Regions from separate parts of the Homo sapiens genome. Here all the other regions are linked to region 3. Evidence: fine-mapped expression QTL. A gene starts in region 3. Each other region holds a variant in brackets. All regions are shown on one strand. Distances are between the middles of the regions. Region 1 holds the start of LOC105370763 (a long non-coding RNA gene). Region 2 has its middle 35 kb from the start of NANOGP8. Region 3 holds the start of ZNF770 (zinc finger protein 770).

The links. PIP is the estimated chance that this variant, and not a neighbour inherited with it, causes the effect. A credible set is the group of variants that fine-mapping cannot tell apart.
Region 1: its variant is the best candidate, but not a certain one, in a credible set for the expression of ZNF770 in whole blood (INTERVAL, PIP 0.88).
Region 2: its variant is the best candidate, but not a certain one, in a credible set for the expression of ZNF770 in monocytes (BLUEPRINT, PIP 0.82).

The regions. Positions count from the first base shown.
Region 1 is chr15:35,016,349-35,026,556 of GRCh38, forward strand. LOC105370763 (a long non-coding RNA gene) reads right to left here and starts at 442. Exons shown (of 3, transcript XR_932098.3): 1 at 1-442. RefSeq lists an enhancer at 3,782-4,474. The variant T/G (reference allele first, on the strand shown) is at 4,382.
Region 2 is chr15:35,045,145-35,055,352 of GRCh38, forward strand. No RefSeq gene overlaps it. Among named protein-coding and RNA genes, the nearest start is that of NANOGP8, 35 kb to the right of the region's middle. RefSeq lists a silencer at 7,923-8,155. The variant CTT/C (reference allele first, on the strand shown) is at 4,483.
Region 3 is chr15:34,982,688-34,992,895 of GRCh38, forward strand. It overlaps ZNF770 (zinc finger protein 770), which reads right to left and starts at 5,600. Exons shown (of 3, transcript NM_014106.4): 1 at 5,429-5,600; 2 at 4,870-4,986; 3 at 1-803. The coding sequence starts at 747. It overlaps LOC105370764 (a long non-coding RNA gene), which reads left to right and starts at 5,671. Exons shown (of 5, transcript NR_188212.1): 1 at 5,671-5,797; 2 at 6,998-7,123. RefSeq lists enhancers at 2,463-3,115, 4,099-4,158, 4,239-4,288, 5,695-5,784.

The DNA of each region.
Region 1 (10,208 bases), 34 kb after region 3:
ATTTCTACTGAAAATCAAAGACCAATCAGCCTGCGTGTGTGTGTGTGAGAGAGAGACAGACAGACAGAGAGAGAGAGAGAGAGAGAGAGAGAGAGAGAGAGACAGAGGGAGAGAGAGAGACTGGAAATCAAGTAAAGAAAGGGAAGCACTAAAATGTAAATGCTGGGGCTGATGTCTTGATGAATATGCCAAGCACTGGAGAAACTTTATTTTGTTTTATGAATCAAACCAGGAAGGGATATTATCAGTATAAGGTGTTTCAGTTGGGGAAGTTGGTGCAATGAGAAGAGGCAGAAATGAAGATGGGAGTTACAGGGGTTCCTCACTCCCACTTACCCCAACTTTGGGACCACATACATACTCCACTCATATTCTCCCACATTGTTGGTAATGCTTGCTTTTATTATTTATTTATTTATTTGAGACAGAGTTTCACTCTTGTTGCCCAGGCTGGAGTGCAGTGGTGCAGTCTCAGCTCACTGCAACCTCTGCCTCCCAGGTTCAAGCGATTTTCCTGCCTCAGCCTCCCAGGTAGCTGAGATTACAGGTACATGCCACTATGCCTGCCTTATTTTTGTAGTGTTTTTTTTTTTTTTTTTTAGTAGAGATGGGGTTTCACCATGTTGGTCAGGCTAGTCTCAAATGCCTGACCTCAGGTGACCCACCTGCCTCTGCCTCCCAAAGTGTTGGGATTACAGGCATGAGCCACTGCACCCAGCCAATGCTTACTTTTAAAATAAAGGCCAGGGCCAGGTGCGGTGGCTCATGACTGTAATCCCAGCACTTTGGGAGGCTGAGGTGGGCGGATCACCTGAGATCAGGAGTTTGAGACCAGACTGGCCAACATGGTGAAACCCCATCTCTACTAAAAATACAAAAATTAGCTGCGGATGGTGGTGCAGCCTGTAATCCCAGCTATGTGGGAGGCTGAGACAGGAGAATTGCTTGAACCCAGGAGGCGGAGGTTGCAGTGAATCGAGATCATGCCACTGCACTCCTGCCTGGGTGACAGAGCGAGACTCCATCTCAAAAAAATGAATAAATAAATAAATAAATAAATAAAATAAAGGCCAGGAAATAAAATGTATTGAAGTGGCAAATATGCTCTAAGCATTGATTAATAGTGTTACAACAAATTAATATTTGTGGTCTATGAAAAAGGGAATTAGACTGTAGTATAGAATTTGTATTCCAGTTCCAGCCCTGCAGCAAGCCCTTTAACCTCTTTAAGTCAGTTTTCCCAAAGATAAAGTGTAAACAAGAAACTTAGCTCTTAATATTTATGGCAGAAAAAATGAAAAAAAAAAAACCTCAAAAGTCCAACAACAGGGAAATAAATTATAGAATATTTATATGCTAGAGTATTGTTAACAATAAAAATTTAGTTTTGAAAATTGTTAGCAATATACTAAAGATTCACAATATAATATTGTGAAAAAACATGATTTAGAAACAGTCTATTGAATTATGCAAATTTTACTAAATATTCTTTCAAGCATATAAAATACTTGAAAGAAATAAATCAAAATGTTAATTTTATTATTTCATGGTGGTGATTAGAGATGGTTTAACTTTTCTTCTTTACATAGTATATTTGTTATTTTCTGAATTGTGTTTAATGAACATATACCAATTTTACCATCAGAAAAGATGTTGTTTTTAATAAAACAATGTGCTTTAGCTTAGTTTATAAGGATATTTAGAGGAAAATGGAAACAAGTTTGAATACTCTCGATTCTGACAAAAATGTGCTAAGCAATCCCAGTACTTATGTTAAAGGGAATTTTTTTTTTTAATTTTTAATTTTTTTTTTTTTTGAGATGGAGTCTCACTCTGTCGCCCAGGCTAGAGTGCAGGGGCATGATCTCGGCTCACTGCAACCTCTGCCTCCCAGGTTCAAGTGATTCTCCTGCCTCAGGCTCCCAAGTAGCTGGGATTACAGGCATGCACCACCATGCCCAGCTAATTTTTGTATTTTTAGTAGAGACGGGGTTTCACCACGTTGTCCAGGCTGGTCATGAACTCCTGAGCTCAGGCAATCCACCCGCCTCAGCCTACCAAAATGCTGGGATTACAGGCGTGAGCCACTGCACCCAGCGTTTAAAGGGAATTCTGATGTTTGTTTCCATAGACAGTTTTTTTCTTAGTAAGGAATGGATGTAGGCACGGTGCGGTAGCTCACGCCTGTAATCCCAGCTCTTTGGAAAGCAGAGGTGGGCGGATCCCGAGGTCAGGAGATGGAGACCATCCTGGTTAACACGGTGAAACCCCGTCTCTACTAAAAGTACAAAAAAATTAGCCGGGCGTGGTGGTCGGCGCCTGTAGTCCCAGCTACTCGGGAGGCTGAGGCAGGAGAATGGAATGAACCTGGGAGGCGGAGCTTGCAGTGAGCCGAGATCGCGCCACTGCACTCCAGCCTGGGCGACAGAGCGAGACTCCGTCTCAAAATAAAAAATAAAAAAATAAATAAATAAAAGAATGGATGTGCTTGGAAGTGATCCCCCCAATCATTAGGGGAACACAGTGTATGTGCCACCACTACCTTAGAACTATTTCTGTGTGCTGAGCCTGGTGTTCAAGAAAAAGTCAAATTGACCCTCATCAGCCTACAGCAACTTTATCCATTCACTAGGAGGGATGACCAGCTCCTTGGGAAGATTTTTGTGCCTGAGGTGGGGCCTCAGACAGGGGTGGGAAATGTTTAAACAGACTCCTTTTCCCATGGCTTCAATTTCAGTCCCTCTTCTCAGCAGGGAGTGACCACTGTCTCTGTCATTCCCCACAGAAGCTGCTTATAAGATGAAAAAAGGTTAAAATACAAGTTCTTGGGAAATAAAAGCAGAGGGCAAGTAGGGCTGCAGGGGGAGCTAGTACCAGAATTGAGCTTGGCATCCTGGGAAGGTGAGGTCAGGTAAGATAGGGACTACTACTATTATAGACTACTGGGTCAAGTACTAGCTATTAATGATCTCATTTAACCCTTTAATAATATGAAGTTAGCCGTGTTATATCTTCCTCCCCGCCCCCGCCCCGCCCCCCCCCCCCCCCCCCGCTCCTCCTCCAACTGGAGTAACTGAAGCTCAGGTAAAACAAAACAAAATGAAACAAAAAACCATTTGCCAGGTTATTTCTTCCTCCCCTTCCTCCTCCTCCCCCTCCCTCCTCCTCCTCCCCCTCCCTCCTCCTCCTCCTTCTTCTCCTCCTCCTCCTTCTCCTCCTCCTTCTTCTCCTGCTCCTCCTCCTGCTCCTCCTCCTGCTCCTCCTCCTCCTCCTCCAACTGGAGTAACTGAAGCTCAGGCAAAACAAAACAAAATGAAACAAAAAACCACTTGCCAAGATCACACAGGTAAATGCTGGAGCCAGAGTTTGAATTGAGGTTTTAGTGGCTCTGAAATGTGTACTTTTTACAACAGAGTCTGGTGAGCCCCAGAGTTGTTTAATACCAGATTCACCCAGAAAGAAATTTGAAAATACAAATTCCAAAATTCCATCCCTAGAAATTCTGATTTTAATTATGTCAGGAATGGGACCAAGGAATCTGTAAGGCGTTAAGGAGGTTCGAGGACTGCAGCTCTCTTCCACATTGCTGCTCCCACATCAGCAATTAGTCAAGATGTGCTCTTGTGCATGGGCCTGAAGACTCAGCCCAGTGAGTGAGCTATGTGTGAACTTCACACTCTTGGCCCCTGCCAGTTCCTCAGCCTCATATCTCCCTCCCACCAAGTCAGAATTTGGGAAAGCCAGCCAGTCAGGAAGAGTGCTAAAACAAAAAATATAAATACAATGAGATAGAAATAATGAAGCTTCGACAAGGTGAGGTGGCTCACACCTGTAATCCCAACACTTTGGGAAGCCGAAGTGGGCAGATCACGAGGTCAGGGGTTCAAGACCAGCCTGGCCAACATAGTGAAACCCCATCTCTACTAAAAATACAAAAAAATTAGCCAGGGGTGGTAGCGGGTGCCTGTAATCTCAGCTACTTGGGAGGTTAAGGCAAGGAGAATCACTTGAACCTGGGAGGCAGAGGTTGCAGTGAGCCGAGATTGCGCCACTGCACTCCAGCCCGGGTGACAGTGTGAGACTCCGTCTCAGAAAAAAAAAAAAAGAAGAAGAAGCTTCTTAGGGTGGTGACTGGGAGGAGGGGACAAGCACCCCATGGAGTTGCTTCAGTCACAATCAATGGTCATTTAACTGCGTCTAAGGAGGTCAGGTCTTAGGTGCAGGCCTTTTGTTTGGCTGATTTGCTTTGCAGATTTGGGTCCAAGGCATGCAAATGTCCCTGTTTAGGATCACAAAGGAGTCACTGGGGAGCCACCAGCATTCTCTCCACTACATTTCACATCTTCTCCAGACTTAATAAACCTTTCCTTTAAATAAATAT[T/G]TTTAAGATATGTCAAAAAGAGCCGGGCGCGGTGGCTCACACCTGTAATCCCAGCACTTTGGGAGGCTGAGGCGGGTGGATCACAAGGTCAGGAGATCGAGACCATCCTGGCTAATACGGTGAAACCCCGTCTCTACTAAAAAAATACAAAAAATTAGCCAGGCGTGGTGGCGGGTGCCTGTAGTCCCAGCTACTCGGGAGGCTGAGGCAGGAGAATGGCTTGAACCTGGGAGGCGGGAGGCAGAGCTTGCAGTGAGCGGAGATCGTGCCTCTGCTCTCCAGCCTGGGTGTTAGAGCGAGACTCCATCTCAAAAAAAAAAAAAAAAGATATGTCAAAAAGATTAGTTTGAAGAGGCACAAAATTACTGACCTGTCTCATGCATCCCTGCATTTTAGTTCTGCTCTGTCTCATCCCATCCCCGCATTACCTCTGTTCTCCTCCAGGCCTTTGCACACCATTCCCACCACCTGGAACACTCTTCTGCCTGCTCGCTCTCTCTACACCTATCTATCTCATTCTTATTCATCTTTTAGGTCTAGGCTTAAACATTGCTTTCTCTGGGAGCCTTCCTCAACATAGAGGTTAGAGACTCTTAGTGTATGTTCTGACACCTATCACCACACTCATCAGATTTCATCGTCATTACATATTTAATTATCTGTTTCCCCCTAAACTGTGAGCTCTCTGAAGACAGGACTTTTGTTGTTTTGTCCATCACTGTTTCTTCATAGCTAGTCCAACGTTCATGAAATCTGTACTGAGTGATTGAATGAGCCGAGAGTCTGAGGCTATGTACATAGTGAGCCCCTTACTTAGAAGGATTAAAAGTTGGGACTGGAACTGTGATCAGTTCATAGGAACTCCAGTGTATAGATTCTCTAACTTTACCAAAGCTCAACCTTATCCAGATTATGGTGCCAAGAATCCTGGGATGCAAATCAGAAATATAAGATCCAGCGAAGTTGTGTAACCTTTTGCCAGTTGTTTAACCTCTTCAACCACTCCCAGCTTTTCTGAGTAGCAAACTGTAGGAAAGTACAGTGCTTTGAAACAATACAAATATGAGTCTCCTTTTGTGGAGACATAGAAGAGATGTGTCATCTTTAAAGGGACCACTTTCTGGTTTCCATTTTTCCCACCTCAAGCCATACCTCTGGGAGGGTAAGCACAGTCAGTACAGTGGAGGCTCTCATCAACGCCACTCACCACTGCCATTATCTGGCTGATTAATACAGTTTGTGTTATTGCAAAGGAAAGGGGAGGAGGAGAGAGAACAACGTGGCAGCATTTGTGGTATAAGAATGTGGTAGATCTGTCAAAAACACTTTCCAGATTCCTCATTCTCTAGGGGACAATTTTTCTGCTGGTATTTTGAGATCTCAAAATTAAATACCTGTGCCAGAACTGCCATCTCTAAGGTGACAATACTAGAAATCTCCCTCGGCTTCTTAACATGAGAGGTTTTAAATATTAGCTGCCTTAATGAAGTACCATATGGATAACATTTTAGGACAGGCAGTCAAATTGTGACAAAAAAAAAAAAACAAAAAATGATTAACTGCAAAAGCAAGAAAAAGAATTTGAAGTAGGGTTGCCAGATTTAGCAAGTAAAAATATTTGAGAAATAATTGCACTAAAAAAGTATTAATTGTTGGCCAGGCACGGTGGCTCACGCCTGTAATCTCAGCACTTTGGGAGGCCAAGGCAGGCGGATCACCTGAGGCCAGGAGTTCAACACCAGCCTGGCCAACATGGTGAAACCCCATCTCTACTAAAAATACAAAATTAGCCGGATGTGGTGGCAGGCCCCTGTAATCCCAGCTACTTGGGAGGCTGAGGCAGGAGAATCGCTTGAACCGTGTGTGGCTGGTATTTCTTTAATGTTATCAAATACCTAATGAGGGTTCAAGTTTCTGATTGTCTAAAAAAATTTTAAAAGTTTTTGCTTTTTAAAAAAATCACAAACCAAATAAAGTCCCTTTGTTTGTAATTTGTTCATAAGTTTCTCCTTCCTTCCTCTCTCTCTCTTTTCCCTTGCAAGCTATATGTTGAAGAAATTCGGTTGTCCAGTTGAGTCTCTTACATTCTGGATTTTTCTGATTGTATCCTCTGCGTATTTGTATCTCTTATAAACTGTTAGCTGGATTTAGAGATTTAGTCTGATTCAGTTTAAAATTTTTTGCAAGAATACCTTCAGGTGGTGGTGTGTACTTCCATCAGGAGGCATATAATATCTAGTGGTCTCTCTTTTTGTGATATTAGCAGCCACTGATGATCATTGCCTAGAGTATGTAATTAGAAATTTGCAAAGTGGTCTTATTCTTTTTTTTTTTTTTTGACACGGAGTCTCTCTCTGTCGCCCAGGCTGGAATGCAGTGGCATGATCTCGGCTCACTGCAACCTCTGCCTCCTGGGTTCAAATGATTCTCCTGCCTCAGCCTCCTGAGTAGCTGGGACTACAGGTGCATGTCACCACTGCTAGCCAATTTTTTATAGTTTTAGTAGAGACGGGGTTTCACTGTGTTAGCCAGTATGGTCTTGATCTCCTGACCTCATGATCCACCCACCTCGGCCTCCAAAAGTGCTGGGATTACAGGTGTGAGCCAGCCACCGCACCCGGCCAGTGGTGTTATTCTTATATCGTTGTTTCTCTATTTATTCTTTTTCCTTCGTGTGTGTGTGTGTGTGTGTTTAGTAGAGACAGGGTTTTGCTATGTTGCCAGGCTGGTCTTGAACTCCTGGCCTCAACTGAGCCGCCCGCCTTGGCCTCCAAAGTGCTGGGATTACAGGCATGAGCCACCGTGCCCTGCCATTATTGATTCTTTTTTCATTACAAATTTATTTTTTAATTATTATTTTCCTTTTTGGTATTGCTCCTTGTGGAGCAGGGATAACCCATAGGCAGTGTGCCCAGAGTAGTCTCTATTTATTCTTGAGAGAACCTTCCCTCATCAACTATTTTGTTACCCTGAGGTGTATTTCATGTGGGAAAGTATCATAGCTCAGTTTCTAGGAGAACAGACTCTGAGATGAAAATTGCATGTCACAGGTTTAAAGCAGGAAGCCCTAGGGAACAACACCTGTAAGAAAGTGAGGAAAGTGCTGGACAGAGTGAGAAAGAAGTTGAACTGTGATGGAATTTTAAAGAACCCAGACAATCCTACAGTGAGCTTTAAAGCCGGCATAGCTCCTCAAAGTTAAGGCTGTGCCTTTATACCCTCCACCCCGCCCATGCATTGACTAATCACTGTGGGCTGACCTTGGGTTGAGGATGTAATCTTGAGTAAGACAGCTCCCCTTACCCAATAACAATTCCTGGGAGTGGCTCAGCTGAGGAACTTTAGCAGTGGAGGCTCCTGGGGACTGAACGAGCATCTCAGTTGTGAAGGGGCCTATCTGAGTGGTGCACTTAAGTATCAAATACAAAAGGACAAGTTAAATGGTTGATTCCTTCTCTTTATTTACCAGATTCAAGAATCATGGGCTAGGCACGGTGGCTCATGCCTGTAATCCCAGCACTTTGGGAGGCCGAGGCGGGCGGATCACCTGAGGTTGGGAGTTTGAGACCAGCCTGACTAAAGTGGAAAAACCCCATCTCTACTAAAAATGCAAAATTAGCCAAGCGCAGTGGTGCATGCCTGTAATCCCAGCTACTCAGGAGGCTGAGACAGGAGAAGTGCTTGAACCCAGGAGGCAGGGGTTTCGGTGAGCTGAGATCACGCCATTGCACTCCAGCATGGGCAACAAGAGCGAAACTCCATCTCAAAAAAAAAAAAAAAAAAAAAAACAAAAAGAATCATGAGTTGAGTTGATGAGTTGTTTCTGAAGGGGATCAGAACATGCTAGCTCAAAATATGCCACTTTGGTGTGAGGATGATTCTGAGCTGAAGGCAATTGAGAAACAGCACATACAGGAAAAGCTCTCTACCCTTCTCTTTTCTGTCTAAAAGCAGGGAATAAATTTTCTCTTTGTGAAGGTTTCCCCCAACCCCTCTCCCACACCAGAAAGAGATGACTCTTATCGCTAGAGATGGCACTAGCTTGAATCTGCATAATCAAACCTCACTAAAATAGCTGTTATCTTCCACTTACTTTCCTGCATATATTTATCACCCCTAGAAACCCGAGCTCTTTTTCTTTGTCTTGTCACTTCTCCACAAATTTGTTGTTCATTGTTAAAATGGCATATAAGCTCTCAGGCCTCACTGCTTCTTTGGGTTTTTACTTCCTTTTCCATGAGACTCTCATATGCATGTAAAACATTAATATATTAACATCAAATAACATCTTTTTTTTTTTTTTTTTTTGAGTCGGAGTCTTGCTCTGTTGCCCAGGCTGGAGTGCAGTGGCATGATCTCGGCTCACTGCAACCTCTGCCTTCCAGGTTCACGTGATTCTCCTGCCTCAGCCTCCCGAGTAGCTGGGATTACAGGTGCGTGCCACCACGCCCAGCTGATTTTTTGTATTTTTAATAGAGATGGGGTTTCGCTATGTTTGCCAGACTGGTCTTGAACTCCTGACCTCGTGATCCACCCACCTCGGCCTGCCTAAGTGCTGGGATTACAGGTGTGAGCCACCATGCCAGGCCTAGATTTTTAAAAAATATTTTTTGTTGCCTGAATTGCCTTTCTACTTTAGAAAGCTAGAGTGATATCTTGAAAGTTGTGGGATTTTTTTATTGGGACAAAAACCAGATGCTAGTCTTACATATCTTGCTTTTATGAAGTGGGAAAAGAGATCCAACCTGCCTTATTTTTCTGAAAAAATTTTTTTAATTAATGGCCTTGATTAGTGTCTGAAAGCTCCATTTTGATGTCCAAATTAGGTCTTCTCCAGAGCTTGCTAGGAAAGTTCTTTCCTTACCTTTTGGTGATTTGGGCTATAGATTTTTCTGTTTTCTCCATTAGTCTCCATTAGTCTTATCCTTTTTTCTCTAATATTTCTTTCAACTTTCTGGTCAGTTACTAGTTCATTTTTCTTGTTTTTTAGCACAATGTATATTAATAAATAGGAATTTTAGTGACATTGGGATAAAAATGGTGGTGGTGGTGGTACTGTGCTTAGTCTGTCATTTCAAAATGGATGCTTCCTAATGTCTTTTTTTTTGAGACGAGGTCTCACTCTGTCGCCCAGGCTGGAGTGCGGTGGCGTGCTCTCGGCTCACTGCAACCTCTGCCTCCCAGGTTCAAGCAGATTGCCTCAGCCTCCCAAGTAGCTGGGATTACAGGCGCGAGCCACCACGGCTGGTGGTTTCACCATGTTGGCCAGGCTGGTCTTACACTCCTGACCTCAGGTGATCTATCTGCCTTGGCCTCTCAAAGTCCTGGGATTACAGACATGAGCCATCACGCCCAGCCCTTAATGTCAAAAATAAAGATCTAATTTCTTCTAAAAAAAAATTTTTTTTTTCAGAGATTGGGTCTTGCTCTGTTGACCAGGCTGGTCTTGAACTCCTGCTCTCAAGCAATCCTCTCATCACAGCCTCCCAAAGTGCTAGGATTACAGGAATGAGCCACTACACCTGGCCAAAATCTAATTTCTTATATAAGACATCAGGGTGACCGGGCAAGGTGGCTCACACCTGTAATCCCAGAACTTTGGGAGGCTGAGGTGGGCGCATCACAAGGTCAGGAGTTCGAGACCAGTCTGACCAAAGTGGTGAAACCCTGTCTCGACTAAAAACACAAAAATTATCCGGGTGTGGTGGTGTGTGCCTGTAATCCCAGCTACTCAGGAGGCTGAGGCAGGAGAATCGCTTGAACCCAGGAGGTGGAGGTTGCAGTGAGCAAAGATCACACCATTGCACTCCAGCCTGGGTGACAGAGT
Region 2 (10,208 bases), 62 kb after region 3:
GGAGGCTGAGGTGGGTGGATCACGTGAGGTCAGGAGCTCAAGACCAGCCGGGCCAACATGGTGAAACTCTGTCTCTACTAAAAATACAAAAAATTAGCCGGTTGTGGTGGTGGACGCCTGTAATCCCAGCACTTTGGGAGGCAGAGGCGGGCAAATCACAAGGTCAGGAGTTCAAGATTAGCCTGGCCAACATGGTGAAACCCCGTCTCTACTAAAAAAATACAAAAATTAACCAGGCATGGTGGTGTGTGCCTGTAATCCCAGGTACTGGGGAGGCTGAGGCAGGAGAATCGCTTGAACCCAGGAGGCGGAGGTTGCAGTGAGCTGAGCTCGTGCCACTGCACTCCAGCCTGGGTGACAGAGCGAGACTCCATCTCAAAAAAAAAAAAAAAAAAAAAAAACCCACAAATTTTTGTAGATTATTAAGCACTACACAAACATCATTACTTCGGTTACCTTAGGTTTTCTTCATTAACAACCCCTGACCTTGAGCATGTGTGGAACTTCTGACTTTGGGAAAAAGAAGGAGCTTATAAATATTATTAATTTAATACGTCTTGGCTGTGCGCGGTGGCTCACGCCTGTAATCCCAACACTTTGGGAGGCCGAGGCAGGCAGATCACTTGAGGTGAGGAGTTCAAGACCAGCCTGGCCAACATGGTGAAACCCTATCTCTACTAAAAATACAAAAATTAGCCAGACTTGGTGGCGCGCACCTGTAGTCCCAGCTACTCAGGAGGCTGAGGCAGGAGAATCACTTGAACCCGGGAGGTGGAGGTTGCAGTGAGCCGAGATGGCACCATTGCACTCCACCCTGGGAGACAGAGCAAGACTCCATCTAAAAAAAAATTAACATATCACAATATATAAATAACATATTATATATTATCTATAAGTAGTATATTAAATAATAACACTATATTAAAATAAGTACCTTATGTATACAATGAACACTGTGCTTTGTGCTTTATATATCTATCACTTTTAATCCTTTGAAAAAGGCTGTGAGATCATATTATTCCCAGTTACCCCTAGATTCCATTTTCTTAATTTGAGAGTCCTGTTTTCTTTTGGTATAGACTGATGAAAACAGATGAGCCAGTATGAATTACCTGGGCTCTGGCTTTCTAGAATGGGCCTGCTGTTTTGCATATCAACATAAATTCTGTGTGAAGATTTTTAGCTGGCTAACCATTTGAGATAGAGTGAGGGGCTTCAAAATTATGTGGTCAAGGCTGGAAACTGTTTTTTTTTTTTTTTTTTTTTTTTTTTTTTGAGACAGGGTCTTGCTCTGTCACCCAGGCTGGAGTGCAGTGGCGCGATCTCGGCTCACTGCAACCTCTGCCTCCTGGGCTCAAGCCATCCATTTCTATCTCATCCTCCTGGGTAGCTAGGACTACAGATGCGTGCCCCCATGCCCAGCGAATTTTTTGGTATTTTTTTGTATAGGTTGGGTTTCGCCATGTTGCCCAGGCTGGTCTTGAACTTCTAAACTCAAATGATCTGCCCGCCTTACCTCCCAAAGTGCTGGGATTACAGACATGAGCCACTGCACATGGCCAATTTTTATTTCTTTATGATCAAGTTTAAAATGTTTTCCAATTACTCATCTGTTACTTCCTATTGAGTTAAATGTATTTTTTTAAATGCAGAAGTAACGTTCACTTCTTACCAACTCAGCCTCACCTATTGATTCATTAAATCCCATAGATTATCCATAATGCGTTTGATACAATTAAATCATGATTTTATTTCCACTTATGAAGAGAGGTTCTCTCAAAGCATTCAAAGCCTATGTCCAAGGCACAATTTGCTTATAGAAAGAATCCGAAGGGGCTGGGCGCCATGGCTCACACCTGTAATCCCAGCACTTTGGGAGGCTGAGGCAGGGGGATCACCTGAGTTCGGGAGTTTGAGACCAGCCTGACCAACATGGAGAAACTCCATTTCTACTAAAAATACAAAATTAGCCGGGTGTGGTGACGCATGCCTGTAATCCCAGTTGTTCGGGAGGCTGAGGCAAGAGAATCACTTGAACCCGGGAGGTAGAGGTTGTGGTGAGCCGAGATCATGCCATTGCACTCCAGCCTGGGCAACAAGAACAAAACTCCATCTCAAAAAAAAAAAAAAAAAAAAAAAAAAAAAAAAAGAATAAGAATAAGAAAAAGAAAGAATCTGAAGGAAGATCTTTTACTCCATGATAGTGGCTAAGTATGAATTACATTACCCAAAGAAGAAAAATTTATTTCCATTAGTCAAATAAAAGTGCTGAGAGAATTCAAATAAACCAATTTTCCATACATTTAAGGGCTCCTGCACATATATTTAATACCTTTCAATGATCAGTTTTAGCCACATGAAGTAGTAAAAACATACAGTATTTCTTCCTAAGTGTTGTTAAAACAACTTCTTAGACAAATGGATTATAAACCTGGGTCAGAGCTTTATTTCTAGCTAGGCACAAGGGATGAAACCTTTAAATGTGCCAATTTAAGATTCCCTTTAGGAATCGTATAGGAAAAGTGAATGGTTAATCATTGTTAAACTGGATACAAGAAAAAATAATGTCTGGTTAAAGATTATTAGGCTAGCCAGTCAGCTGGGTGGGTAACCCTGGCTTCCCAGAAGTCCTTAATCTCATTCAGGTCTATCAGAAAAGTGCTCAAGCATTTTAACAGCAATGCCAATTACTTCCCAGAGGAGGTTGTGAATTATATCACATAAAAAAGTTCTGCCTCCAGACAATGTTTAGGACAATCTTTGTTCTCAATGTGAATAAAACTTTTGTGCCAAAAAGCTATCATTGAATTTTTGGTTCTAAAATAATACTTTTTCTCTAATATTTGATTTAAGGTGGCTAGCCCTTTTGGAATAAACCTATGAAATGTTTCTTACCTTAAAAGAATGTTGCAAGATTTGAGACATTGATATTTAGACAAATGTAACACTTCTGAGAAATTGTAAGATGACATAATGGAAATAGTAATAAAGTAAGTGGCAAATGTGATTTTAAAACAAGCCAGCAGTGTCTGGATTTGTCTACTGATTTATAGGAAATACATGATAAATTACATCACAGATGGGCAGTGAGGAGTATCTAGACTATGGGAAATTCTACAGGACCCAAAACCTGGTTTCCTCAACAAACAAATTGCAAGGAAGGGGTGGGGGAACCTATATAAAATACATAAAAGACTTACCAATCAATTACATGTGGACTTCATTTGTATCCCTAGTGAAACAAACACATTATAAAATAAAATTATGCCATTCTTGAAGCAGTTGAGAATTTGAAGTCTCTTACTGAATATTTAATATTAATGAATTATTGTTGATTTAATGGTATTGAGTTTATATGTTAAAAAATCCACCTTATTCTTTTTTTTTTTTTTTTGAGACGGAGTCTCGCTCTGCTGCCCAGGCTGGAGTGCAGTGGTGTGATCTGGGCTCACTGGAAGCTCTGCCTCCCGGGTTCATGCCATTCTCCTGCCTCAGCCTCCCGAGCAGCTGGGACTACAGGTGCCTGCCACCACGCCCGGCTAATTTTTTGTATTTTTAGTAGAGATGGGGTTTCACCATGTTAGTCAGGATGGTCTCAATCTCCTGACCTGGTGATCCACCCGCCTCGGCCTCCCGAAGTGCTGGGATTACAGGCTTGAGCCACCATGCCCAGCCGACCTTATTCTTTAGAGATAACACAGTGAAAATCTGCAGATGAAATGATATGAAGTCTAGAATTTGCTTCAAAATAATGCAAGAGAAAGAGAAGAGGGTGTGGATACAGACTAAATACAACTAGCTGTATTGATAACGGTTGAAGTTGAGTGATGGGTGTTAGGAAGTTTTTTGTACAAGTCTGCCTATTTTTTGCATATGTTAGAAACTCTCTTTAATAGAGAGTTTAAGTAAAATGATGTTGGCAAGATTGGTCCTTTGAGCTGTTGGTGCTTTTGTTACTGTCCTGGCCAAACTCCTATTCTAGAGCCTACCACCAGTGGAGCCCTGTAAACAAAAAACACCAATTACAGCACATGTGCAGAAGTCAGACCACAATATGACTTAAGGGAAACCTTTCCTTTAGAGCATAACATTATGGGCAAAAAAAATCCTGGCTAGACACAAAGAAATGGCTATTACTTTGAAGCACTGTAGTGAAGGGGTAGTACTCATCTCTCTTTGGAAAATATAAAACTTGGTAGGGTTTATTTGTTGTGGATAGAGAGGAGGGAAACAATGAGAAAGAATATGGTCCCAAGTCTGGCAAGGGGCAGAACTGTTCTTCCATAGTTTAAAAGGTACTGGGCCTCTTCTGGGAAGTAATTAGCATTCCTAATCAAAGGCTTGATAGATGTCACTGTGAAGAGGACCTCTTCTGGAAAGTTGGTTGGACATAGTCTTCATCCATCCTCTATTTATTCATCTTCCTTGTCTTCTTTCTTGTAACACCTCCTCTTTCTTTCTCTTTTGCATTCTATTTTTCCT[CTT/C]GTCTTCTTTTTTCCTTTTCTTCTTCTTCATAGATGTTTCTCTCAAGAGAGAATTACTTGTGTATAACTTGCTCAGAGGGCTCTGTCCTGGCAGCAAACTTGAAATGAGACTCTTGACATTTCTTGTAATCAGTTTGTCTGAGAACTTGCTTTCTTCAGTTTTTTTCATCACATAGATTATTCATTGGAACATAATAAATAATAAAAATCTTGGAGTTTCTAGTTTAGTAGCTCAAGGAAGGTGGTTAGAAGCCTGGAAGAGGTGGCAGAGAAAAAAGAATGTGGAGAGACAGGAGGCCAGCAATAAGACCAGAGGTTGGGGTCTGGGCGCAGTGGCTCACGCCTGTAATCCCAGCACTTTGGGAGCCCGAGGTGGGCGGATCATCTGAGGTCAGGAGTTTGAGACCAGTCTGGCCAACATGGTGGAACCCTGTCTTTACTAAAAATACAAAAATTAGTAGGGCTTTGCAGGGTCCTGAGGCAGGAGCATCACTTGAACCCAGGAGGCGGAGGTTGTAGTGAGCTGAGATTGTGCCACTGCACTCCAGCCTGGGCAACAGAGCAAGACCCTGTCTCAAAAAAAGAAAGAAAGAAAGAAAAAAGACCAGAGGTTAGGACTCTGCAGGGACACAGCCCAGAGAAACTGCTGTGCCTGACATTCAACTTGACCTGTGTTGAATGTTCTTTCCTGATCTGTGTTGTTATTACTCCTTTTCTCTCCCATCTTAGTAGATGACAACACCATCCCTAGGCTGAAACCTAGTCTAAAAACCTAAGTTTCATCCTCGCTTCCTCTCATTCTTTCACATCTGCAAGTCCTGTTGGCAGACCTTCAATATGTATCATAACCCAACCACTCCTCCCAGTGCCATCGCCTAAACACTGGTTCCAGCAGCCAGCTCTAGCCTGGGTTACTGTAATGGCTACCAAAGTCATCTTTCAGCTTCCACCTTTGCCTGTTTCATTCTCTTCTCAATGTAGGAGCCAGATGATCCTTCTAAAATGTAACTTAGATTGTATCACCCCTCTACTCCAGAGCCTGCAATAGTCATGTAAAAGCTAATGGTCACACTGGCCTACTGGCCCATGCAATCCACTTCCCACCTACCCCTGGCCTGTTACCCCTATGATCACATCTTGGCTCTGCCCTCGCTCGTTCCCACTGTGGCCACACTGGCTTCCTGATGTTGTCCCTAGGGACTGCACCTGCTGCTCCCTCTACCTGGGTCGTCCTTCCCCCAGACCTAGGTATGGCTGTCTCCAGTGCTGCCTTCATGACTTTATCTAACTTTTTTTTTTTTTTTGAGACAGATTCTCGCTCTGTCGCCCAGGTTGGAGTGCAGTGGTACGATCTCCGCTCACTGCAAGCTCCGCCCCCCAGGTTCATGCCATTCTCCTGCCTCAGCCTCCCGAGTAGCTGGGACTACAGGCGCCCGCCACCACGCCCGGCTAATTTTTTTTGTATTTTTAATAGAGACGGGGTTTCACCGTGTTGGCCAGGATGGTCTTGCTCTCCTGACCTCGTGATCCGCCCGCCTCGGCCTCCCAAAGTGCTGGGATTACAGGCGTGAGCCACTGTGCCCAGCCTACTTTATCTAATGTTAAGTCTCCTCAGTGAAGCCTTTTTGACTCCTCTGTTTAAACAATTAAACTCCTATGTAGATAGTAAAACCCAAAAGAAAAAAGAAAAAAAAACGAAAATAATCACACTCTCCTCCCAGCACTCTGCATCCCGTCTACTTTGTTTTTCTCTATGTACATATTACTACCAGACACAGTATATAGCATGTCATTTGTTGTATTTATTGGCCGAGAGTTTCCCCTGGAATGTAAGCTCAATGAAGGCAGAGAGTTTTGTCTCTTTTGTTTGCTGCTGAATCCCGAAGGCCTAAACAGGGCCTAGTCTATACTAGCTGCTCAATAAATATTTGTTCAATGACTGAATGAATGCCCCAAATTAGTAAAACCTTGGGTGAGTAGTGCTTTGGGTGAATGAAGCAAAGCTGAGTGCAGGGGCGATGTACTCACTTCAAGCAAAGAGATGGTAAGCTAATGATACCAAGAGTTTAGTGGAAATGGACAGTTTGAGTGAGGGTATGGAAGTTGAGCCTCTGGGAAGCCTCAGGGAAATTTTTGGACCTTTCTTCCATAGCCTGAGTCATTTTATTTGAGTTTTTTTTTTTTTTTTTTCCTGAGACAAGAGTTTGCCCAGGCTGGAGTGTAGTGGCGTGATCTCCACTCACTGCAACCTCCACCTCCTGCCTCAGCCTCAGCCTCCTGAGTAGCTGGGACTACAGGCATGTGATACCACACCTAGCTAATTCTTGTATTTTTAGTAGAGACAGGGTTTCATCATGTTGGCCAGGCTGGTCTCGAACTCCTGACCTCAGGTGATCCACCCATCTTGGCCTCCCAAAGTGCTGGGATTATAGGCATGAGCCACTGGGCCCAGCCATTTTATTTGAGTATTAAAACAAGGGCAGTCATAGAAGATTGGAAATACTTGGGAATATTTGGTTACTTTAAAAGAATTTAAAGTGGCTGGGCATGGTGGCTCACGTCTGCAATCCCAGCACTTTGGGAGGCCAAGGCAGGCGGATCACAAGGTCAGGAGTTCAAGACCAGCCTGCGCAACATGGAGAAACCCTGCTTCTACTAAAAATACAAAAATTAGCTGGGTGTGGTGGCACATGCCTGTAATCCCAGCTACTCAGGAGGTTGAGGCAGGAGAATCTCTTGAACCCGGGAAGCGGAGATTGCAGTGAGCCGAGATCGTGCCACCGCACTCCAGCCTGGGCGACAGAGCGAGACTCCGTCTCAAAAAAAAAAAGAAATTTAAAGTTACATTTTGAGAAAAGACATATTTTCTAATTCTGGACATTTATACATCTGGTGTTTTTTTCTTTCTCAGAAAAAGGTTTAAATGTTTGAAATTAGACATCTGGCAACCCTCGTAGCCAGCTTAAACAGGGCAGAGACAATCAATACTCTATTCCAGATCTGCCCAACAGAAAATACAAACTCCAGTGTTGAAGCTTTGAGAGTGAGGGTGGGAGTAGCAAGTGTGGGTGCTTGCCCTGTACATTGGCGACTTCTTTGGGGGCTCTGAGAGCGGATGGAGCAGGTGAGGAGATGCTGGTGAGGAAGGTAGAGGAGACTGGTGGGAGGATCAGGTCATCCCTGGAATAAGGCTCATTTCTAGGTTGGCCCAGTTGGCCTGCAGTGACCAGACTATAGCAGGACTCATAGAAGGAAGTGGCTATGTTAGCTGGCACTAAGTAAAAGACAAAAACCTGGCCGGGCGCGGTGGCTCACGCCTGTAATCCCAGCACTTTGGGAGGCCGAGGCGGGCGGATCACGAGGTCAGGAGATCGAGACCATCCCGGCTAAAACGGTGAAACCCCGTCTCTACTAAAAATACAAAAAATTAGCCGGGCGTAGTGGCAGGCGCCTGTAGTCCCAGCTACTCGGGAGGCTGAGGCAGGAGAATGGCGTGAACCCGGGAGGCGGAGCTTGCAGTGAGCCGAGATCCCGCCACTGCACTCCAGCCTGGGCGACAGAGCGAGATTCCGGCTCAAAAAAAAAAAAAAAAAAAAAAAAAGACAAAAACCTAATTAGGAAGGAAAAGCAGCTCTAATGCGTAAGTAGAAATAATGCACGTCCGTGCCCTGCCTCCAGCCGCTTTTGCGAATCTCCCCATGGTCAAGGTGAGATCAGCAGGCCCGTCTCTCTCCCCTTCCAGTAATCTTTCAGTCCACAGATTGCACATTTGAGGCTGTTCTCACTCTCACTCCCCAAATTACCTTCTAAGGTTTTTCTTGATGTTCATTTTTGTCTTGTGTAAAAATATTGAGGCCCACATTTTCTAGGCATAGTTGTGTTGCTGACTAAACCTAAAAGTGGGTGCATAAGACCAAAAAATTGATTGATACTCTATGCTAATGTTGGAGAAGGAGTGGCACAACATGGTAGGCAGAGTTCGGGCCTCCAGGGGTCTTGCCCAGCTTCCACGATGCCCTGAAGGTATCCAGGAGGAACACTGACCATGCTGAGGGTGTTGATGGGAAAGCTTGCCCGAGGGCTAACTGAGATCTGTGCCCATGTGTGTCTGTGGTGTCAGTGTATGTGTCTAGGGGAGGCAGGATGAGCAAAGAAGAAAAATCGTACTTTAGCTGATGGCAGTGCTGGTCTGCAGCCCAAATGAGATTTGTAGGAAGACCTCCTCAGAGACTCCAGCAAGAACCTGAACAAGAGGGAAGTGAGGCTGCTAAGTAGCCGGGAGGCACCACCCAGCTCTGGCCAAGTCTAAAGAAATCAGAGGACAAGGCACAAACAACAGAAGCAGCAGACCTTAGCAGGGCAGCAGTACCCGGGTGGACAAATGACAAGAACGTGCAGATCAGGGGGCTAGAGGACATCATGCTTGAGGTCTCTGACCCCATCCATCATGAAATTGCAAAGTTTCTGGACAAACAACCCAATTCTACATGCATTCATGTAGTCTAATGCCATCTTAGAGAGGAGCCGGTAGAAGACCAATAAATCACCAAACACTTTTATCTAGAGAAATGGAGCATTAAACAAAGGGATCCTAAATGGTAACATTAGACAAAGGTTTAAACCAGATTGGACCTTTAGTTATTTTTCTCCTTGCTACTTACTTAGTGGTTAGGTGCCCACAAGGATATTTGTCCTATTTGTGTAAAAATACCAATTTTTCATTTTTATCCATCTGATAAGAGTAAATTGCAACTACATAATATGCACATAATTGTGTACATTTTACCTCTGGGTGTAATTAGCTCAGATATTTAAAGCTCCTGGCTATTCTGGTATAGGGGAAAGAGGGTAGGCACTCGCCTCAGATAGACCTAGGCTTGAACCCATCTCTTCTACTCTATTTCTTCCCTGTAGGAACTTGGGCAAGTTACCTAACACCTCTGAGTCATGGTTGTCTGTAAATGGATTTAACAAGGCTCATCTCAGAGGGCTGTCCTGAAATTAAAAGGTATTCTTGGCTGGGCACAGTGGCTCCCGCCTATAATCCCAGCACTTTGGCAGACCAAGGCGGGCGGATCACTTGAGCCCAGGAGTTTTGAGACCAGTCTGGGCAACATGGCGAAACCCTGTCTCCGCTAAAAATACAAAAATTAGCCTGGTGTGCCAGTACAGGCCTGTAGTCCCAGCTACTCAGGTGGCTGAGGCACAATAATCTCTTGAACTTGGGAGGCAGAGGTTGCAGTGAGCCCAGATTGCCCTACTGCACTCCAGCCTGGGCAACAGAGAGAGACCCTGTCTCAAAAAAAAAAAATAATAAAACTATCTGAGTGTAGAGTGCCCAGTTCAGGACTTGTCCCGCAGTAAATGCTCAACAAATGTCACTTTTCTTTTCTTCCCGCTCTAGATAACTTGTACATCAATAAACAAATGACAAATTGCTTCTTAGTTAACTTAGTCCAATTAACTTTCTTTTTTTTTTTTTTTTAAATGGAGTCACGCTCTGTTGCCCAAGCTGGAGTACAGTGGCGCGATCTCGGCTCACTGCAAGCTCCGCCTCCTGGGTCCACGCCATTCTCCTGCCTCAGCCTCCCGAGTAGCTGGGACTACAGGTGCCCGCCACCACGCCCAGCTAATTTTTTTTTTGTATTTTTTAGTAGAGACGGGGTTTCACTGTGTTAGCCAGGATGGTCTCGATCTCCTTACCTTGTGATCCGCCCGCCTCGG
Region 3 (10,208 bases):
TAATAAAAGAGCCCGAAAAGCCTTATTCCTAGTATGGATTTGTTTATGCTTCAGAAGTTTGCTTTGAATCTTAAATCCTTTTTGACAAAAACAACATTGAAAAGGTCTTTCTTCTGAATGTGTAAGTTGGTGGATTTTTAAGTGAGTTGACTGTCGAAAAGATTTAGTACACAAGACACATTTAAAAGGCCTCTGACCAGTATGAATAAGTACATGCCTATCAAGTTTTGACTGTGATGGAAACATCTTGCCACAGATTGTACATGCATGAATATTCTTTCTTCTTTTCATGCTATACATGGGATCAGACTTAGAGCACGGGTGTAATGCCCATCTTTCCTCTGTGGTAAAAGTATTATACACTCCATACATTGACTTTTCTTGCTTGGCCTCCAGCAATCTTCTGACCTGTTTAACATTATTCTGATAGGTTTCATTGTGAAGTTGTTGGTGCTTCACAAATGTCTTCAGATTTTTAAAGTGACGCTGACAAATACTACATTTAAAAGGCAGACTATGAGTTAGTTGATGCCTCTCCAGATGAACTAGTTGTCTAAAGGTTTTATGACACACATCACATTCAAATGGCTTTTGACCAGTATGAATGAGATAGTGCCTAGCTAATTTTGATGGTGTTTCAAAGTGCTTAAAACAAATATTGCAAACATATGGCCTGTTTCTAGGTAGTTTGTTGGCTACCACACACTGTTGAATCTTTAGCATTTTTAAATTGTTTTCAGCCATCATATTCTTCAATGATATACTCTGATGAGCTCCATACTGTTCTTAAATTCCACAGATGTCTAAAAATTAAAGGAAAAAAAGTATTAATTTTAAAATTATTTATTCATATGAAAAGTAACTTAAGTTGTTCTTTGGCTGAAGATATTAAAGGCAAAGGAGAATCTGGACTTAGTGTTTACAAGTTAATAATCATTTTAAGTAATACTTTAGAATAATAATACTAATTTTATACATACAGAGATATGAGTCTTTAAAAGAAATATCTAAAAATCAATACAATTTTAAGCTATTTTTCTAATTGAGATGCTACATTAAATGAGGACTAGGCTGAATTTCTTAACATGAAATAGATATTTTAATTCCAATTTTCCTATTTCATTATTAGGTAGATTTGCCAGTATTTAGTTGCCATCATTTTAAAAAATGGGCTAGAAAGGTAACAAATCAAAACATAATACTAAAAATAAGATATACTTGCATTCAATTATAGCACATTGTAAATATGCTCTTAGAATAGAACATTTCACTTATCATAGGTGGATTTCTTAGCCACAAATTTAACATGAGTTATTCTCAATTACTTCTTTAGACCAACAAGGACAGTGTGGACTAGGAGAAAATTCACAGAAGACCTGGGTTCTAGTCCTGGATTTGCCACTATACGATCTTGGTGGTAGGAAGAAGGAAATACAGAGTTCTCATCTGTAAAATGGGGAAAAGGTCTCCTGGATTGTCTACCACCACAAGCTGTTGTCAAAAATCAATGGAGATAATGTATATGAATGTGCTAAAAAACAGTGAAGCAATACATAAATCTAAGGAACTATTTAGCTCAACACTAATCAAATTTTAAAATGTTATCCTTATCGTCTTAGTAACATTTTTAAGCGTTTCTCAATAAGAGATAAACCCACTGACTAAATTTACAGGTTTTAAAAATTTCTCACCTGGCGCCGTGGCTCACGCCTGTAATCCCGCACTTTGGGAGGCTGAGGCTGGTGGATCACCTGAGGTCAGGAATTTTGAGACCAGCCTGGCCAACATGGTGAAACCCCGCCTCTAGTAATAATACAAAAATTAGCCGGGTGTGGTAGTGCACACCTGTAATCCCAGCTACTCAGGAGGCTGAGGCAGGAGAATCACTTGAACCCAGGAGGCAAAGGTTACAGTGAGCCGAGATCGTGCCATTGCAATCCAGCCTGGGTGAGAATCCATCTCAAAAAAAAAAAAAAAATTCTCCTTTTCACTTTGTTGTGAAATTCCCAAAAGACAAGCATAGAGGTAATAAGATCGACAAATTGGTTACTTATATAGCTATCTATGACTAAGTAATTGAAACTTGAGTGTGCTTTGCCCATCAGGCAATATAGTAAAAGGGTCATTTTGGTCTTAAGCGTTAATATAAAGATTTAAAAAACTGGCCCAGTGCAGTGGCTCACACCTGTAATCCCAGCACTTTGGGAGGCCAAGGCAGGGAGATCACATGAGGCCAGGAGTTTAAGACCTGCCTGAACAACGTGGCAAAACCCCGTCTCGACTAAAAATACAAAAATTAGCCAGGCGTGGTAGTGCACATATGTTAATTCCAGCTACTTGGGAGGCTGCAGCACGATAATTGCTTGAACTGGGGAGGCGGAGGTTGCACTGAGCCAAGATTGCACCACTGCACTCCAGCTTGGGCAACAGAGCGAGAGACTGTCTCAAAAAAAAAAAAAAAAAAAAGTTTAGCAAGCACTTTCATAACTATCTTATACTCTATCTTCTATCAGAGAAGCCAATTTTCTTTTCATTATTACTTTACTATGGCACTGCCCTTAAATAAAGGAGTCAGAGATTTTTTCAAAAAAAAATTAAAAGCTGTGCTAGCTCTTTCAATATAATGTATCTTCTAGATCAGAGAGTTCTAAGTCTGGAGTTCTTTTGTCAGCTGATCTGGCAAACATCCAACAAACACGGTGTTACTATTTTCTCCTAGAAGATACCTTCAACCCCAAATCACAAACATACCCACTGTGGTTCTTTAGCAATGTGAATCAGAAACAGAAAAAAAAAATTACTGAACAAATATCTTTAGTTACTTTATCACAGTGTTTTTCAAACTGCAGGATATTACTCATTAATGGATTGTGAATTCAACTTAGCAGATCATGATCAGCACTTTGTTATTTAAAATAAGAGCGGAGGCTGGCATAGTGGCTCATGCCTGTAATCCCAGCACTTTGTGAGGCCGAGGCAGGGGATCACCTGAGGTCAGGAGTTCGAGGCTAGCCTGGCCAACATGGTGAAACCCTGTCTCTACTAAAAATACAAAAATTAGCTGAGTGTGGTGGTACATGCCTGTAATTTCAGCTACTTGGGAGGCTGAGTCAGGAGAATTGCTTGAACCCAGGAGACGGAGGTTGCAGTGAGCCGCCAAGATTGCACCACCACACTCCAGCCTGGGAGACAGAGCAAGACTCTCAAAAAAAATTTAAAAATAAATACATAAATAAAAATAGGGGATAAATAATAGTAGAAAGTATCAGACTGCATACTATATAGCAAGGATAAATATTGTTTTGTGAAACTTCTGTAGGAAGAAGTAAAAAAGTTTATGAAAGCTGTTCTTAACATGCCTCTTCATACTAGACAAAGGAACCTACAACAAATCGACCACTTTATTCAAAGTGGCCAAGTGATCTATTAAGGTGAGAAAGATAGGGGCCCATAGTATGAGACAAGATTACTAAAGAAAGCAAGTGTCTGGTTTTCTTCACTTGACCCATATTATTCCAAAATATTTATTTTAAATAAAAATCATCTAATTACAGGCCAAATGGAAAATGCCACATAAATCCACGCAAAATAAAACAATCTGACTGTAAGCCAGTATAGTAGTAAAATATATCATATAACCCAGATATCAATGTTAACCAACAATCAACTCTTGGTGCTATGAATATGCATTTTCAGTAGCTTGAATTAGAGAAATTAGAGGTGAACAAGCTCCAAAGTCTCTAAACATGCCGATACAGAGCAACAGTCATGATAATTAAAATTAAGTCATGAATCCAGTGAACTGCAAAGAACTTGGCAGCAATTAGGTGCCAAGGTAGTCAATCAGGACAATGAGTCAAACCAAAAGTAATCAAGCCTTTATTCACTTACTGTGACAGTGCAAGCAAGTGGTAAAAAGAGGCACTGGCTCCCCAGTGGTCTACTAAATACAAGGACACTGGGTGAGGGTCAGTTGATGCAGTGCATATGAGGTAATCCTCTCACTGAAAGGAGCCCCTAACAAAAATCTCCTGCCTCTTATGGAACTTCAGAATAGGAAAGGGAGGGGAAGGTCTAGGAGTGAAAGAAGCTGGGTCAAAAATGGAGAAAAGTGTCTTAGCCACGGTCCTTCCTAGGAGGGCCTCCAAATGGAGGTACCCAGGCTAGGAAAGAAGTTATGGGATTTGCATATCTAGCAGGAGGGGCAGGGCAAGTCCTTGACTGCAACCCCCTCCAGAAAACTGCAATGCACCGGCCCATATCGAGTATGGTGTGGGAGGACAGCTTGGCCCTTGAGGCCAGTCAGGCAAAGCCTGGTAATTGTCCAATGTCAGGACTGAATGATCACACAGGATTTTGGTATAAAGCCAGATTCAATTCCTTTTGTATGTTTCTTCTTCCCTTTAATAAATGCTTTCGTGGAACACGCCTAAAAGAAAAAAATCACACACCACAACTACCTCTGATTAAAACAGGGATTGGCTACCTACAGCTCCTGTACCAAAAAGGAGCTACGGTTAATCATCCATTGTTAGCACTAAGATTGGATAACTGTTGTCACTTGCCTCCCACCACGTGGAAAAGCACTTACTGGGAGCCCTAGATTGTTAGAACCATTAGTGGCAAGTGGTGATCCTATCTCCTGTTTATGAGAGTCAGGTTAGGGATCCTCACCTCACGCACTCATGGAGCTCCAAATCCCATTTCAACCGATTTTTGTTGATAACATAAAAATAAAAAAGACTGTAATTTTTCTTATCTTAAACTGAAATAAAAGAATAGTAGATCTGCTCAGTGGTTCAATCCAGAATTTATCCTGACAAGAACAAGATACTCTACGTGAAGACTGTAAAAACTGTAAAAACTGACCTCAATAATATCCAATGTTGCCTCAAGGCTGAAAGCCTGTTGATTTTCTTGTCTTGACTAGTACCATTAAAACGATGTGAGGATTTCACGAAAGTAAGCGAACAAGAAATGAAAGACCTAAGAGAAACACACACAACTTTCAGTTGGGGAATAATCTCCGGCGGCTGCTTCTGCCCCACTCGCCCCGGGCCCATTCTCTTGGCCTTGAACCCTCACCTCTCCCTCCCAGTGGACTACACTGGACAAAGGACACTGACACACAGTCCTCGTTCTAAAGGCCCACAACCAATAATAAGCACGTAATGGTCGAGCCGAGTCCAGAAACCACAAAATCCCACGCCAGGAAAGGAAGGGTAAGGGTAAAAACTGCTTTGGCTGCAGCCAGGATGAAAACGCCACATGTGATACAACCCACAGCAACAACAAAAAAAAATCCCTCTACGCCTTCCTCTCAAATTTCTGCTCCGCGTGAGACGCACTCAATAGGTGGGGAAGTGAGAAAGCAAAAGGAGCTCAGGAACTGAGGTTGTGGAGCCCCCGTTCTTGGGTCCCCAGGCACCTTGGCGGTATTGAGGCAGGTCCGACCCTCCCTGGGGGTCGCTCCACTTCTCAGTCGGGTTTCTGAAGTCCTCCTCACGCATCTGGAGCTGGCGAGGGCCCGGGAGGCACGCACCTCAGGCCCAGGTGCCGCGAAGGCAGCGCGCGCACGTCCGCAGGGCCGGCGCGGCAACGGGCTGAGCGCGCAGGCGCGGCGCTCTGGCGCGCCCAGGGACACAGTCCGGCTGGAAACAAGCTCCCCCCAATTTCAGGGCCGTTGTCGCCTCCGGGCGGTCCGCGGGTCCCGAGCGGACTGGGACTCTGGAGACGTGCCCCCAACCCCACCGCCATTCACCCTGTCATTGCAGGGGAGAGAACAGAATAAAGACGGGTACATTTTCCATCTCACCTCTGAACCTCGGTTAGGAAAACGCTGTAGCCCTGACTAGTGGGCTCAAGGGCCGACTGGAAAAGGGCGAGTCAGCGTTCAAAGCCGATTCGGGGCAGCCCTCTCTAACGCAGAGGGCCGAGGATAAGAAGACGACAATGTGTTAGGGGCCCTCCGGGCTAGGACTGTCCTCACCACTTTGTACATTGCCAAAGTAAATATAACGTAGAGGTCAAGCGCAGGCGCTTTGTGGGCAGACATGACTGAGCTCCACTCGCGACTCCTCTAATGGCGTGCCAGCTGCGGACCTCATTAGCCCCGCCTCAATCATTCAGTATGTTTTGGTTGTCTACAGTGTACGAAGCCCTGTTCTCACAATTAGATAAAATGAGTGTGAAGTGCTCAACATAATTCCTAGTGTAGTAGGCCTTCAAAGAACTATTATCATTATTAATTACTCATATAGAATACAACTTTATGAAATGATAGGATCCCATTTTAAGATGAGGAAAATGAGGCTATCAGAGACGTTAAGGAACTTAATGTCACACAGTTAATAAACGATAGAGGTGCGATTTGAACACAGGTTGTCTAATACCAGACCTGCATTTATAACTGCTGCTTCCCAAGTTATAGATATTTCAGCATTTTATGTAGTCACAATTGAAGACCAAATATTTAGTTACAGACTAAGTTGGCATGTTATTACTGAATAAGATGCTAAGGTATCTACTAAAGATTTTAAGTGCAAAAGGCATTAGAGAAGAATTTACTGTGGATTTTTTGCAGGTTCTGATTGTAATTGTATCACCTTGAGAAAGGAGGAAATGAAAGCAGATTATCAGGCATACTTTTTTAACTCTAAGCAACTTTTTGCATTACTTTCTAAGGACCATCAGCAACAAAAATCAATGGTTTCTAATGTTGATATATTTTCCTCTACCAAAAAAATTAAAGCAGCTGAGCCAACAAAAATTCTCTGTTTTGGATGTGTTAGCATGAGGAAATGGCGAATAGGAAATGAGCTTTTGCTTCTCATGTAGGAACCCTGAAGGAGTCAGATTTGGGAGGGGTTGAAGTCTGCTTCCAACAGAAGCAGGGGTGGAGAAGGGAAAGGAAAGACTTCTGGTGTCCTAAATGCTAGTCCCAAAGTGGGGATGCTGTTTGTCCGGATAACCCTTGTAAATCTGCTCCATTCTGCAGCTACTCCTGGGAAACTTAACTCAGCCAAATAATGCAAACAATTGCATCCATCATCAGCCACATCAGCCTTAGGAGATACATCCATATCATGAGAAAACACTACCTGAAATTGGGGACCACTGGAGGGTGAGATTCGTTCTTTATCCATTACCTGCAAAACAAATTGGCCTTTGCATGGAGAGTCTGAATATATATTGAGTGTGAAAGCAGTTAGGACTTGAATAGGCTATTCTCCAAGGCCACATGCCCCATGTCATAACCTCCCCCATTTACCGTGAGAGCTATCTCAGGAGCCTTCTGGAAAAAAAAGAGAAATTAACATGAATAAGAGTAATCAAGGAAGATTTCATTGAATATGTGAAATTTGAACTAGCAGTAGTGGGTAGACTATGAATAAATAAAAAATGTGGGGGCAGGACAGAACATGGTAGGGCAGAGGTGGCAGGGTGAAGAAAAGATAGTATGAGAATGAAAAATAAAGGGGGTGCATGACATACGTTTGAATTAGTATCTTAATGCTGCAGCTTACTAGTTGTGTCCTTAGAAGTTATTTAACCTAGGCTGGGCGCGGTGGCTCACACCTGTAATCCCAGCACTTAGGGAGGCCGAGGCGGGTAGATCATGGGTCAGGAGTTCGAGACCAGCCTGGCCAACATTGTGAAACCCTGTCTCTACTAAAAATACAAAAATTAGCCGGGCGTGGTGGCACGTGCCTGTAGTCCCAGCTACTCAGGAGGCTGAGGTGGGAGGATTGCTCTAGCCCAGGAGTTAAAGGCTGTAGTGAGCCGTGTTCATGCCACTGCACTCCAGCCTGGATGACAGAGCAAGACTCTGTCTTAAATAAATAATAATAAAAATAGAAAAGATGTGCCACTGCACTCTAGCCTGGGCGACAGAGCGAGACTCTGTTTCAAAAAAAGAAAAAGAAGAAAAGACATATCAGGTACCAAGCTCTAAATATTCACTTCCAATTATATAAAGATGAAGCAGTTAGGCCCTGAACCTTAAATTAGTTTCTAGCCCAGAGGGGAAAATAACATACAAACAAGTATTAATACAATATGATAAGAGCAGATATATATAGGAGGAAAGAACATCTAAATCTGCTTGGAGGTTCCAGGTACAGATGGTCCCTGAGCTGCAGCTTCAATCAGCCATCTATCCATCCATCCGTTCTGCATATATTAAGCACTCGCTGTGTATCAAGTCCTGTTCTAGGCAAGGGGGACAGAGTAGCAGACAAAAAGTCAAAAATCCATGTCTTCATAGATTTTATATTCTACTGAAGGAGACAGACAACAGATCAAATAAGTTAAAATATATAATATGTTAAATATTAGTAAGAACTGAGGAGAAAAGCACAGAAGAGGGCTGTGAAGATTTGAGGGTGTGGGTGGGGATGCTGGCATTTTAGTAGATGGCCAGAGATGGCCTTAATGAGAAGTTCTGTGATTTTTTTTTTTTTTAATACAGAGTCTTGCTCTGTCACTCAGGCTGCAGTGCATTGGCACGATCTCAGCTCACTGCAACCTCTGCCTCCCAGGTTCAAGTGATGCTCCTGCCTCAGCCTCCCAAGTAGCTGGGACTGTAGGTGCCTGCCACCATGCCCGGCTAATTTTCGCATTTTTAGTATTTCGCATTTTTAGCACCATGTTGGCCAGGCTGGTCTTGAACTCCTGATCTCAGGTGATTCATCTGCCTCGGCCTCCCAAAGTGCTGGGATTACAGGCATGAGCCACTGCACTCAGCCTAGTTCTGTGATTGTTGAGTTGAAACCTGGTGGAAATGAGAGACTGCCTTTCCCATGGGAGACAGTAGGAGGCAGGGATAAAAATGAGTAGTAACTTGCTTAGTGGGCAAGAGAGTGTGTTTTTGGAGGAGGGTGGGGAAAGGAAAGATAGGCAGAGAATATTCCAACCACAACAGACACACAGTGAGAAAAGGCATGGCAAACAGGAAATACAAGTAGTTGCTGGAGTGTGAAGTACAGGTTGGGAAAGTGGGGAGTGGCAGGAGAGTCACTCACGCAGGAAATAATTTGGAGCACCTACTGCTCACCAGGTTCTTAACAAGAAGCTCAGAAAGTTGTTATATGCAAATGTTTTCTTTTTAAAAATTTTCTTCTTCTTTTTCTATCTTTTATCCAAATAATTGTACTTGATTCTCTAGTTTCTCTTCAGATCCTATAAATCTTTCATCTTTTACCAAAATAATTGTACTTCAAAGGAGTCCATAATTTTAGGATATTTTGTATGTTTTTTGGAATATTTTAAAAACAGAGTTTTTTTTTAACTTTTTTTTGAGATGGAGTTCTGCTCTTGTTGCCCAACCTGGAGTGCAATGGCACGATCTCGGCTTACTACACCCTCCGGCTCCTAGGTTCAAGCGATTCTCCTGCCTCAGCCTCCCGAGTAACTGGGATTATAGGCACGCGCCTCCACGCCTGGCTAATTTTTTTTTTTTTTTTTTTTTTTTTTTTTTTTTTTTTTTGTAGAAACGGAGTTTCACCATGTTAGCCAGGCTGGTCTCAAACTCCTGACCTCAGGTGATCCGCCCACCTTGGCCTCCCAAAGTGCTGGGATTACAGGCATGAGCCACCATACCCGGCTAAAAAACAGACACTTTTTGAAATTGACTTTTAATGGTGTTAAAGCTGCCTTCTGCCCTAAGTGACAGGCTGGCAAGGAGCTCACATCTCCTGGTTCCATCCCGTCTCTCTTATCTTTCCTTTCTCCTCTTCCCATTCCCTCTGTGGAACAACATACAAAGTCATCTGCTTGCCTTCTGCAGATAGTCCACCCAAATCTGTACCCCTCAGGTGTTAGTTTCTACCCCCAAGCAACTGTCAAAGAATTTTTTCAACAAAGAAATCCTTCTTTCTTTCTTTTTTTTTTTGGGGGGAGGGGAGATGGAGTTTTGCTCTTGTTGCCCAGGCTGGAATGCAATGGCGTGATCTTGACTCACCGCAACCTCCGCCTCCCGGGTTCAAGTGATTCTCCTCCCTCAGCCTCCCGATTAGCTGGGATTACAGGCATGCGCCACCGTGCCCAGCTAATTTTGTATTTTTAATAGAGACGGGGTTTCACCATGTTGGTCAGGCTGGTCTCGAATTCCGGACCTGAGGTTATCTGCCCACCTTGGCCTCCCAAAGTAGAAATCCTTATTTCTTAAGATGATTTTTGGTGAATAGAACCCTCTCCTTCCCATCATA